2 separate regions of the Homo sapiens genome follow, and region 2 is linked to region 1. The links come from fine-mapping of genetic effects on gene expression. A gene starts in region 1. The other region holds a variant in brackets. All regions are shown on one strand. Distances are between the middles of the regions. Region 1 holds the start of DLC1 (DLC1 Rho GTPase activating protein). Region 2 overlaps DLC1 (DLC1 Rho GTPase activating protein).

Evidence for each region. PIP is the estimated chance that this variant, and not a neighbour inherited with it, causes the effect.
Region 2: its variant is fine-mapped to the expression of DLC1 in fibroblasts (GTEx, PIP above 0.99).

The regions. Positions count from the first base shown.
Region 1 is chr8:13,512,292-13,517,680 of GRCh38, reverse strand. It overlaps DLC1 (DLC1 Rho GTPase activating protein), which reads left to right and starts at 2,830. Exons shown (of 18, transcript NM_182643.3): 1 at 2,830-3,079.
Region 2 is chr8:13,359,701-13,365,089 of GRCh38, reverse strand. The region is part of intron 4 of DLC1 (DLC1 Rho GTPase activating protein); the gene reads left to right. Among named protein-coding and RNA genes, the nearest start is that of DLC1, 150 kb to the left of the region's middle. The variant C/A (reference allele first, on the strand shown) is at 2,932.

The DNA of each region.
Region 1 (5,389 bases):
TTAAGGAAGTTGGTATTTAGATTTGCAAGTAGAAAGAAGGGGACAAATATTTTGAACTCCTTCAGTGTTCCTGACACAATACTAAGTACTTAGGAAGTTTTCTCACTATTTATCTTTACACTCATATTTGGTAAAGCCTTTATAAGACTATAAGATCTGAGATTTGTTTGGAATCAAGCAACTCAACAATGAAAAATAAATATAAGTAATTAAAGATTTGGGAAGTAATCCTATTAATAGAAGAAAACATAATGTATTTTTTGTGTAGAAAAGGGTATGTTTATGAGAAACTTACTAACAAGAGTTTCTAGATATCTAAAAGGCATTTGTGAACAGAGTTTTCTTGTTTTCCCAAGCCAATAGAAATAGAAACAAAACTAAAGTATATGGCGCGGGGTACAGTATTCATGAATAAAATGTAGCTAAGAATTAGCATGATGCTGATATAATATTGAGTAACCACTGTATATCAGTACTAAAGGCAGTGACAGAGATAGAGATATCAAGTTATATTAGGAAAGACATAATATCAGTTCTCATTCCTTTCTTCTCCAGTGTTTTTCTTAGGGAAATAAACATAAATACACAAATATTTCTGCATATAAATTTCATCCTGCTTTCCAATCTATAAGTTATGTGAAATTGTCTCTATTTTTAAAGAGAAACTATTAGAGTTTAAGAAGTCTTCCCAATTTAATAAAGAAATTAAGTGGAAGTCAAGGAAGGCAGTTTATGGAGAAAAAATTAAAGCACAAAGCTTGGAGCTAGAATATCTGAGTTCCAGTGTGGACCTGGGCACTTTGTATCATTTGACTGTGAGAAAATTGCTTCTCAATACTTTATTTGTAAAATAAAACATATGAATACACGCAAAATTGTTGGAAAGATTAAATAGGCATACTGTCAGTAGAAACACTTTGAATATAAATATAAATACTTTTTAAAGAATTTATGGAAGAACAGACTTCTTTCTTGGCCTATGGTTGAAGATTAAATTAAAGAAACCTAAATGCTCATGTTTTTAGTCAATAAGACTTTGATCTAAACTTTTAAAGCTGCTTCTGACCAAACGTTTTTATTTGACTACTTCTCATCTTCAAACTCATGCACAGTATAAGTCATTCTTGCCATCTAACATGGGTCTAATATGGTTCATGATTTGCATTAACTTTGAGAGATTTTAGCTACCTAATAAGGAAAAAAATAGTAGTTAGAACCTTGTGCATCTTTGAGTTATCACCTACCCAATATTATCAAAAAGTACTACAAGATAGCCCTTGTGATATACAGGGATGGAGAATAACAGTGAACAATGAAAACTACTTACAATTTCAGAGAAGAACAGGATAGATCTTAGGGCCAACAAGTTTAAGATGTCTTTTACCTCTTTATATGTTACTCATTTTATCACATCCAACTGGAATTATTCTTGCACTTCCTATTATTGAAAGCTTCTAGAAATTTGCAAGAAGCAGATAGACCTAATAATTAATCTGATCATCAGTCCCCCCCCAAAAAAATGCTTGAGTCATAAATAGCAGCGAAATCCATTGATTGTAAATAAAGTAGAAGGGAGACATGACTGAGCCATTTCCACCAAGCAAGATAATTAAAGTCAGAGATGCTGTTTCCTGCTTCCCTGGTATAAACAATGAAGCTGCTCTACTGGCCTCTCCACAGCCTGGATGTCCCAAAACCACCTCCCTCTTCTTTCCTTCCACATTCTCTAAAGAGGATTCTGGGTCATAAAGGAAGGAAAATTGGTGTAACTTTTTTCCTGAAACGACTTCAGCTTCCTCTGTGTTTGTATTTGTGATATCTTATTATAAGACGAGCTAACATCTATTATTAATTGATGCACTAATTAAAGCCATACTTGCAGTTTCCATTAGCTTATTCCCTAAATTCTCCAGAGTTGCCTGTCTGGTTTTAATCAAAACCAAATGGTAGTCCAAATTCCCAACCTGGAGCAGCTAGGAGGAAGTCATTCAAGGGAGGCACAAGAAAGCAGAAAAGATAAACAGATGATAGTTCACAAAATTTGTGACGGACGAAGGATGCAGATACCATGAGCGGCTTTAGAGATGTGATTCAGGAACGCTGCCATGCTAGATGGAAGCAGTTGTAAGTGTTTAATGTCAGCAAGACTCTAATACGATCAAGATGGAGCCTGTCTTCTGCTCCAGCACTGGATTTTTGTAACTGGAGGATTCTGACTAGAGGTAATGCGCTGCTGCATTTGCCATAACACGAACTATTTTAATTCTGTGAAGGATTCTTGTGATCAGAGAGATCTGGAAGAAATCGTTCTATTAACTGGATGCTTGGGATTTTACTTACAGATGGTCTCAGGGACAGAATGAAAAGCTGCAGCATTTCCAATTTTAAGTCATGTTCAAAAAAGGTTTTGCCATTTAGAAGAATTATGGTATTAAGGCTAAATTCATCTTGCTCTCTTAAAAGATCTTTTGAAATGAGAGCAAGCACAGGCATTTTGATTAAGCTGTGCATATACATTTAATATAGTGGAAAGGTTGTGGATAGAGAGAAAACTACGTTTTCTTTCTTTCTTTCTTTCTTTTTTCATAAGCAGTGTGGGATAGAAAAAGCTCTAGGACTTTATGACTCTACAGCTAATCACCTCAAGAGCTTTGACAAAACTCACTTGAGTTCTGTGTAAAATCAGAACTCCTAAAACGCCCAGGCGGCTGGGCTCTCCCCTCCTCCCCTCTCTTCGTACAGCCTTTCTAGCATGCACACTCCTCAGAGGCAGGAAATACTTTCCAGGCAATCTGGGCCTGGTTGTGGAGGCCCCTTTTGCAAAACCTCAGTCTGAATTTAGTAGACAGAAGTCACTAGGAATGCCTTGACAGGATCCTGCCTTAGCTAAGGCTCCCTCCAGCTGCAGAGGGTGTTTTTGTTAGACTCACACACTGCGTGAAACTGCTCAGAATAGAGCCATGATCTCAACCACGAAATGGGAACTTAGATTTTGGAGAAACTAACGGGGACGGACTTCTTTCCTAGCCTGAGTGTTGAGCAGTGTCATGCCTTGGCGTTTCAGCTCCTCGTTGTCTAGGTAAGACGCTATGGACTATCTTTATGCTTTGAGGCGGTCTTTGAAGAGGCAGAAAGATTGAGATAAATGTTAGCATCTTGCACGGAGTTGGTGACTTCCTAGGTTTTAGAGCAAAGCCATAAAATCAGAAGTGGAAAATGTTTGATAAGTAGAAAATTCTGAGTCAATTCGTTTTAGCAAACTGTCAGTTCTAAAACAGGCTCCATATAGATTTAACTCTTTTCCTCCATAAAGTAAGATTTTATTTTTATCCCTTTTTACGTTTAACTTATTTATTAATTGAGCTGTCGGATCAGTTTTCCTATTTCTTGGCATAACGTGAAACAAATACATTTTCTCACACATCAGTGTGAGGTGTAAATGAATTCCTCCCCTACCTTCCTTTGCCAACAGGGAGAGTAGAAAGCACCCGAGTGACTTGTGCTTAATAATCAGTCTCCAAAGAGTATTTTGTGTCTCATTTAAAACTACGAAGATTGAATTTCTTATTATTTTACCCAAGCCAGTTTCAATCATATGTCAAGCTTCTCCTGTACAGCTTAAAAGGTTCATTTAAAAAAAAAAAGTAAACACGTGAAATTTCAGGAATTATTTCTGTCCTAAATAGTATTTAATCTGAGTTTTGGAAATTTAAATGTCGGAATCGAATTTAGTTTATATTAATTTTCCTGGATTCACTGCTTGCTCCGGTCACATTTTGTGTAATATTTTGAATAACTGAAGTCAATCTCAATGACACTGACACTCATTATAACTCTTTTAAGGCAGCCAGAAATCACTCCAGTCATATGGAAACTGTTTGTGTCCTTACTTATGTAATCGTAAAATTACATTTCCACCTGACTGTAGTCTCTTCAAGGTAATCTTAAATGTTTAAATGTACAATATATTAGAAAAGAAGTTTAGTAATGACCGAAAAAGTGTGGACTTATAATGCATAAGATACTGTTATATTTCTGAATATTTATAATAAAATTCATCATTTTATAGAAATAAAATGGTACATAAAGGGAAGAAATATTCATGTACATTTTCAAATCTATTAGATGAATACAAAATATACTAAGTGAAAGATGGAGAGCTATTTTGACAGTTGGATCATAAGAAATGAAGTAACTGTTTTCATTATAAGTTTTTATATAGTACAAGGTGACCATCTGCTATATTAGCTATTCTCAAATTTTATGCTAGAATAACTTATATTGATAAATTTTAACTATTCACTGACAATTTGTGTTAAAACTTCTTAAATATGAGAAAAAGAATCTACTTTTTATATATGTGGAAGATAAAATACTGACTTATCTAAATTATGATTTAATTAAAATCTCCAAATGGAATTTCAGAGAAGGAAAGAACATAAGAGATGGTCTCCTCTAACAATGGCTTGAGGTTGTCTACAAGAAGCTGAGAAATGGGATTTAAAAGTGACCTGTCCAAGGTCACACCTCTAGCTAATAGAAGAGAGGACAGCAGAACCACAGTGCCCTGATTCATAATTCAGATACCTTTTTATCCCATCATCCTGCCCTCCCATAATAATTATGCATAATGAAGTATGAACATGTCCAGTAGAAGGGTGCTTTGCAGACAGAAATTTGCAGTTCCTCTAATTTAAAAAAAAAAAAAAAAAAAGGTAAAACTGTCACCAATGTTAATTATGTGGGGAAAAAAATCCTAACTTTAAAAAAAAATCAAATCAGTATGCCTTCAATAAACACTTTACAGTAGTAACTTGCTTTATGACTATTTTATTATATTTGATGTTTATGTCAAGAAAATCAATCCATATGCTAATAATTATATTAATTTTAATCTGATGTTTCTTTAAAAATAGGGCTAGAAAACAGCTTTTCTAATTTATATCCTTGTACTCAAATGATCATAATGAAACTGTCCCAACCAATGACTTTCAGAGGCAATTTTACAGCACCACCCCCAGGCATCCTTTCTTCTATCTAGCCTAAATCATTGTTGCTGTAGCTTATTTCAAGTTCTATGTGGGTCTTTTCACTAAATATATAAAAAGCCTAAGTTGACATATAAAAAATATGTTTACATTTCTCCAGCATGTTTGCAATCCCTTAATTGATTTGTATGTCTGCTCTAAGCCTTCTACAAAGTCATTTAATTGTAGAATGCAGAATTTTTACAGTATATAAATAAATGTCTGAACAACGTGGTATAAAATGGGAGCGTGGGCTATTTCATCTGCATCATACTTCATATATGACAATATTTGTTGCTGTGTGTGCTGAAGCAGTATACCTTCTCAGACAAGACCCTTTCTCATAAATGTAACACATTCCA
Region 2 (5,389 bases), 150 kb after region 1:
GAATACAGATTGGATTAAATGTAAATGAAGTATTAGAACAGCAAGACACGTGTCCTAGTTGAAGAAAGTGTTGCAAGTCTGTGGGCAAAGATTTACCATGCAATCTCAAACATACCAAGAATTTAATCCTTGGCAAAAGATGAGGGTCCTTTTAAGGACAGAAAACAAACATTGCAATTATATTTTAATAAACTCAAATGAGTTTCTTAGTTGGCAATTTATTTTTATTGTTTTGATGGTTTGTGGGTAAATGAGTTAGAAATATGAGACGACTTTCCTTAAAATATACATGTTTTTACTAAGTTAGGGGAAAAGTTTGGTTTTGATTGGTCTTTGAAAGGCTGACAAAGATGTCTATAGCATGTGATAATTTTAAAAATCACCTATTCCTAGTCCAAAAAAGGGAATCCATGTAAGCTTATGTGCTTGCATGGTTCATGTACCAGTATGTAGGGTCAGTAAACAAAAGGGGAGATAGAAGTATCATTATGCAGGCCTGCTGTGGTGGTTCACACCTGTAATCCCAGCACTTTGGAAGGCCAAGGCGGGAGGATCACCTGAGGTTGGGAGTTCGAGACCAGCCTGAGCAACATGGAGAAATCTGTCTCTGCTAAAAATACAAAATTAGCCTGGCGTGGTGGCACATGCCTGTAATCTCAGCTACTCAGGAGGCTGAGGCAGGAGACTGGCTTGAACCTGGGAGATGGAGATTGTAGTGAGCTAAGATCATGCCACTGCACTCCAACCTGTGCAACAGAGCAAGATTCCATCTAAAAAAAAAAAAAAAAAGTTTCATTACCCAGAGAACTGGAAACTTAAAAATAGCTTTAACTACGAAGAGGGAGCAAACTAGGTAAGCAGATCTGAAGAGGAAGGTGATGGGCTGACATTCTATGTAGAGTTCAGTGTGTTACTGAAGAATCTGGACAAGAAATCTTCTTCTTAGTTGTTCTCTGGCTTTCCTTGAACTCCTTTCTCTCTTTCATTCTCCTGCCTCTTTTCTCTAAAGCTGAAGTCACATGCATGCGTGTGCACGTGCGCACACACACACATACACACACACCCCTACCTCTCCCTGCTATCACTCAAGTTATAACAAACAAAGAAACCACTGTAGGAATTTCACATTTCAAAGAGCTTCTTAGAGCGTAGAAAGAGTTAAGGGAGTGTGTACCTTTATACCTGGTTTTCTTTAGCCAAGTAAAGCAAATGGCACACAAGCATACAGCTTTTGTTCTTGATGGCTCCAGTTATCATTTTGGTACCAAATCTAAGATCCAAATGAAATCCAGTTTTGCAATCACCAAATACTGAGAAATGTTTCAGCATGCTTGGCGACCTTAGATTTTGCTGGACCTACAATGGAAAATAAAGTTGTAGGATATTTTTGCATGCTGGTGATTTTTTTCCTTTTGGTTTTTTTTGTTTGTTTTCAATTTTATGGGGGAGAACATGTAAAAATACCTTAACCAATGACTTTAGGTTCTATATTATTGTAAAACAATTTACAATAATTTGCTCTTCACCTCTCTCATGCCTTCTGTGTAATAGACAGAACAATAACTTTTGGAAAAAGAGCTAGGTTCAGTTTCCACTTCTGTCACCAGCTTTATGACCTGAGACCAATTTGTTATCTGAGCTTCAATGTTGTTAATCAATTAAACAGGCATAATGCTAGGTTCTGATGGACACCATAAAGTTTAAAAAAAAAAAAAAAACACTGCAAATGCTTAGCATTCACGTATTCAATGACATATACTAAGTCTCCACAATATGCATGCTCTGAGAACACAGTGCAGAAACAGACAGAAAGCAATGACTCTGCCCTCAGGGAGCAAATATACAAGTGGCAGAAAGATAACAAACTACAAAGAAATCCAAATTAAAATACAGAAATACTTTCAGGTTAGTTCCATGGGCTCTCATGTGTAGACATTAACAGAATTAGTAATTTACAAATATTTGTGTGATGTTTGTCTCATTAATGTTTACATCCCCCACAAAGTGTAGGCTCTGTGATGGCAAAGACCAATATTGTATGCCCATATCTAGCACACAGTAGAAGGGTAATGCACAATTACTGAATAAATGAATGCACGCATTGTGATAAGGGAATAGAAAGATGTAATCGAGAAAACAGAGATGTGGGGAGTAACATTGGTAGGATGGTCTGGAAAGGCCTCTCTAGGATGCTGGAACACTTAAGTGATGAGAAGAAGCCAGCCATGTGGTTGGAAAAAAACAAAACAAAACAGAAGAGAATTCTAAACAGGAAATATCCGGGGCAAAGGCCCTGAGACAGGAAAGACAGTAGAATGCTTAGAGAACGGGAAGGGGCCAGTGTGGCTGATGCAGACACCAGAGACAGAGATTATGGTAAATTTGAGTTTTATTGTAAATATAATACAAGTTCCCCTTCCCTCTTCCACACCCCCCTTGTTTATAGTTTTGTTTTAGTAACAAGATTAACATCCATTGAAAAATTAGGCAACAATACTAGATAATAGACCATTAATTATGAATTGCAAGAAACAGATGTCCACGTTCAGGAGTGGAAGGGATGTGAGCTAATGAAGGCAGGAAAGGTTAACCGACATAAGAGTTTCACTCTAATTCCAGGCACTGCCTCAAAATCATTCCACTATTGGGCACTTGGATCCCCACCATACAGAGTGCCCGGGAATCTAACTGCAACCAGACAAATGTCCTAATTTCACGCTTTGCTGCCTCCTCATTGGCAGATGTCAAAGAAATTTTTCCAAGCCAGACTCTATGATGTCCCCAAAACACTGGGCTCTTTCTCCAGTTTTACTGGTGAACTTCCAGTAAGTCATCTAAGCTGTATTGCTCAGCTTCCACATCCTATGAAGTGTCATCGAGGTCATCTTCCCTGCAGATGTTGTCTTCAGCTTCCCAGACTCACTCTGTAGA[C/A]CAGTATGTGCCAACTCCTCTCTGCCTTGCAAAATGGTTCCAATTAAGCCACTGCTCCCACTTTCCTCCTTCAGAGCCTGAGGCTGGAAAGTTCTGCTGTTTTCTCAAGTTTAGTGGTTGACATCTATTGTGTCTGGCTGCTCTTTGACTCCACTTTTGAATTTATTTCTTTGGTTTTGGGAAATTCTGTCCTTCCTCTTCTTCCTGCCTTGACTATATGGGAAATCTGTCTCAGCTTGGCCTAGCATTCAGATCACTATTTAGCCCAGTGCCCAGCACCTAATGTCATGACTTACTTATAGAAGATTATTGATATATGTACTAAATAAGAAGTTAGGCAGCAACGCCTACTGTCAGCCCTTTTCAGTTCTTCCTTGAGCAAGAAGCTTGATTCTACTTTTTCTTACCCTAACAGAAGGGACATTAGATTTTGGTAGGGAAAACTTGTCTAAAAGTTCATAAATATCTTGTCCAGACCTATCTTTGAAATATAGGAAATAATAATATGTAAAGGGGACTTTTTAAACACATTCTACTTATTTAAAATGATACCTAAAATGTCCATTAAGTAACATTGAAAATACCTACACTGGAGCAGGGCGTGGTGGCTCACCCCTGTAATCCCAGCTACTTGAAAGGCTGAAGCGGGAGGATAGCTTGAGAACAGCAATGCAAGACCAGCCTGAGTAACATAGAGGAACTTGTCTCAAAAGATAAAAAAGAAATTAAAAAAAAAATTAGCAGAGCATGTTAGCATGCCCCTGTAGTCCCAGCTGCTCAGGAGGTTGAGTCAGGAGGATTGCTTGAGCCCAGGAGTTCGAGGCTACAGTGAGCTATTAAGATGTTTGCACCATTTCACTCCAGCCTGCACGACAGGGTAAAATCCTGTTTCTTTCTCTCTCTCGTTTTGTTTTGTATTGTTTTTCTGAGACAAGGTCTCACTCCGTCGCCCAGGCTGGAGTGCAGTGGTATAATTAAGGCTCACTGCAGCCTCAACCTCCCTGGCTCAGGTGATCCTCCTACCTCAACCTCCTGAGCAGCTGGTACTACAGGCACATGCCAACACACCCAGCTACTTTTTGTATGTTTTTGTAGAGACAGGGTTTCGCCATGTTGCCCAAGCTGGACTTGAACTCCTGAGCTCAAACATTCTGCCCGCCTCAACCTCCCCAAGTATTGAGATCGCAGGCATGAGCCGCTGCAGCCAGCCAATATTGTCTCTTTAAGAAAAGGAAAATACTTGTTTTCTAATATTAAGGTGAAAAAGAAAAAAAAAAAATAATGTGTATAAAACATGAGCCCAGCCATGCAAAACAATTAGCATTGAAAGAAGGAAACAAACCAAACTGTTGACAATGTTTGTATGTGGGTAGTAAGATTATGAATTTTATTTTTTATTTTTTTCATTGTTTTCTACATTTCATATTTTCTAAGACATGGATTACTTGTATGATCAGAAAATTACATTATTTATAAAAGAAAAAAAAATCACACTATGCAACCAAAAAACACAGAGTAAGTCTTTCCTTGCTGATTCTCAGTGGTTCTCAACCTCCAGCATATTAGGATTAACTGGAGAATTTATAACAATCCCAATGCCCAAGCCCAGCGCTGTATCAATTAAATCAGAAACAGAAACCCAGGCATCAGTATTTTAAGTTTCCCAGGTGATGTCAATGTGCAGCCATGGTTAAGAACTACTAGTAGAGGAAATGGGTAGCTTAGATCAATGGTTTGCAACCCTGGCTACAGTGATAATCTCGTGGGGGGCTTTTATAATACCAATATATGCTCCCTAATACATTTCTGATTTCAGTTGGTTTGCAGTGAGGCCCTGGCAGTGGTAGATATTAAATTTCTCCATGTGATTCTAATGTGCAGGCTGGTCTATTGAGTGTTCGTTCTGTGTAGAGCTCTGTACTGAGTGTTTTATGTACATTACCTTATTTAATTCTCAAAATAGTACAACCAGGCAGGTATTATCTTCATTTTACAGAAGAGGAAACTAGAACTCAGACACATGAAATTAATGTCTCAAGGAAACTCAGCTTGCTTGAACCCAGCTTGTCTGTCTCCTGTGGGGATAGGCAAAGAAAGAATTCTACCCAGTTGTGTGGAAAGCTTTATAAATACTATAATGCGGAATCCAACATACTCACTTTTAAAATGTCGATGGAGTAGCTCTTTATAAATCTTATTAACAAGTGTCTCATTTCTGTCAAACCCTGTCAAGTGTAAATGCATCTGCAATATCCTGAACATTTATGATTTTCATTCCATAATGGCCTGAATAGCATGAGAACTTAAATAACTTCCAACCTGTTCAAAGTTACAATCACATCTCATCGCTTAACTTTATGACACCACCCAACTTCTCTGGTGAAATCATAGTATGGTTCCTATTCATTTTATTTTATATCATTTTATGTCATTATTATATATAACAAGCAATTAAGTA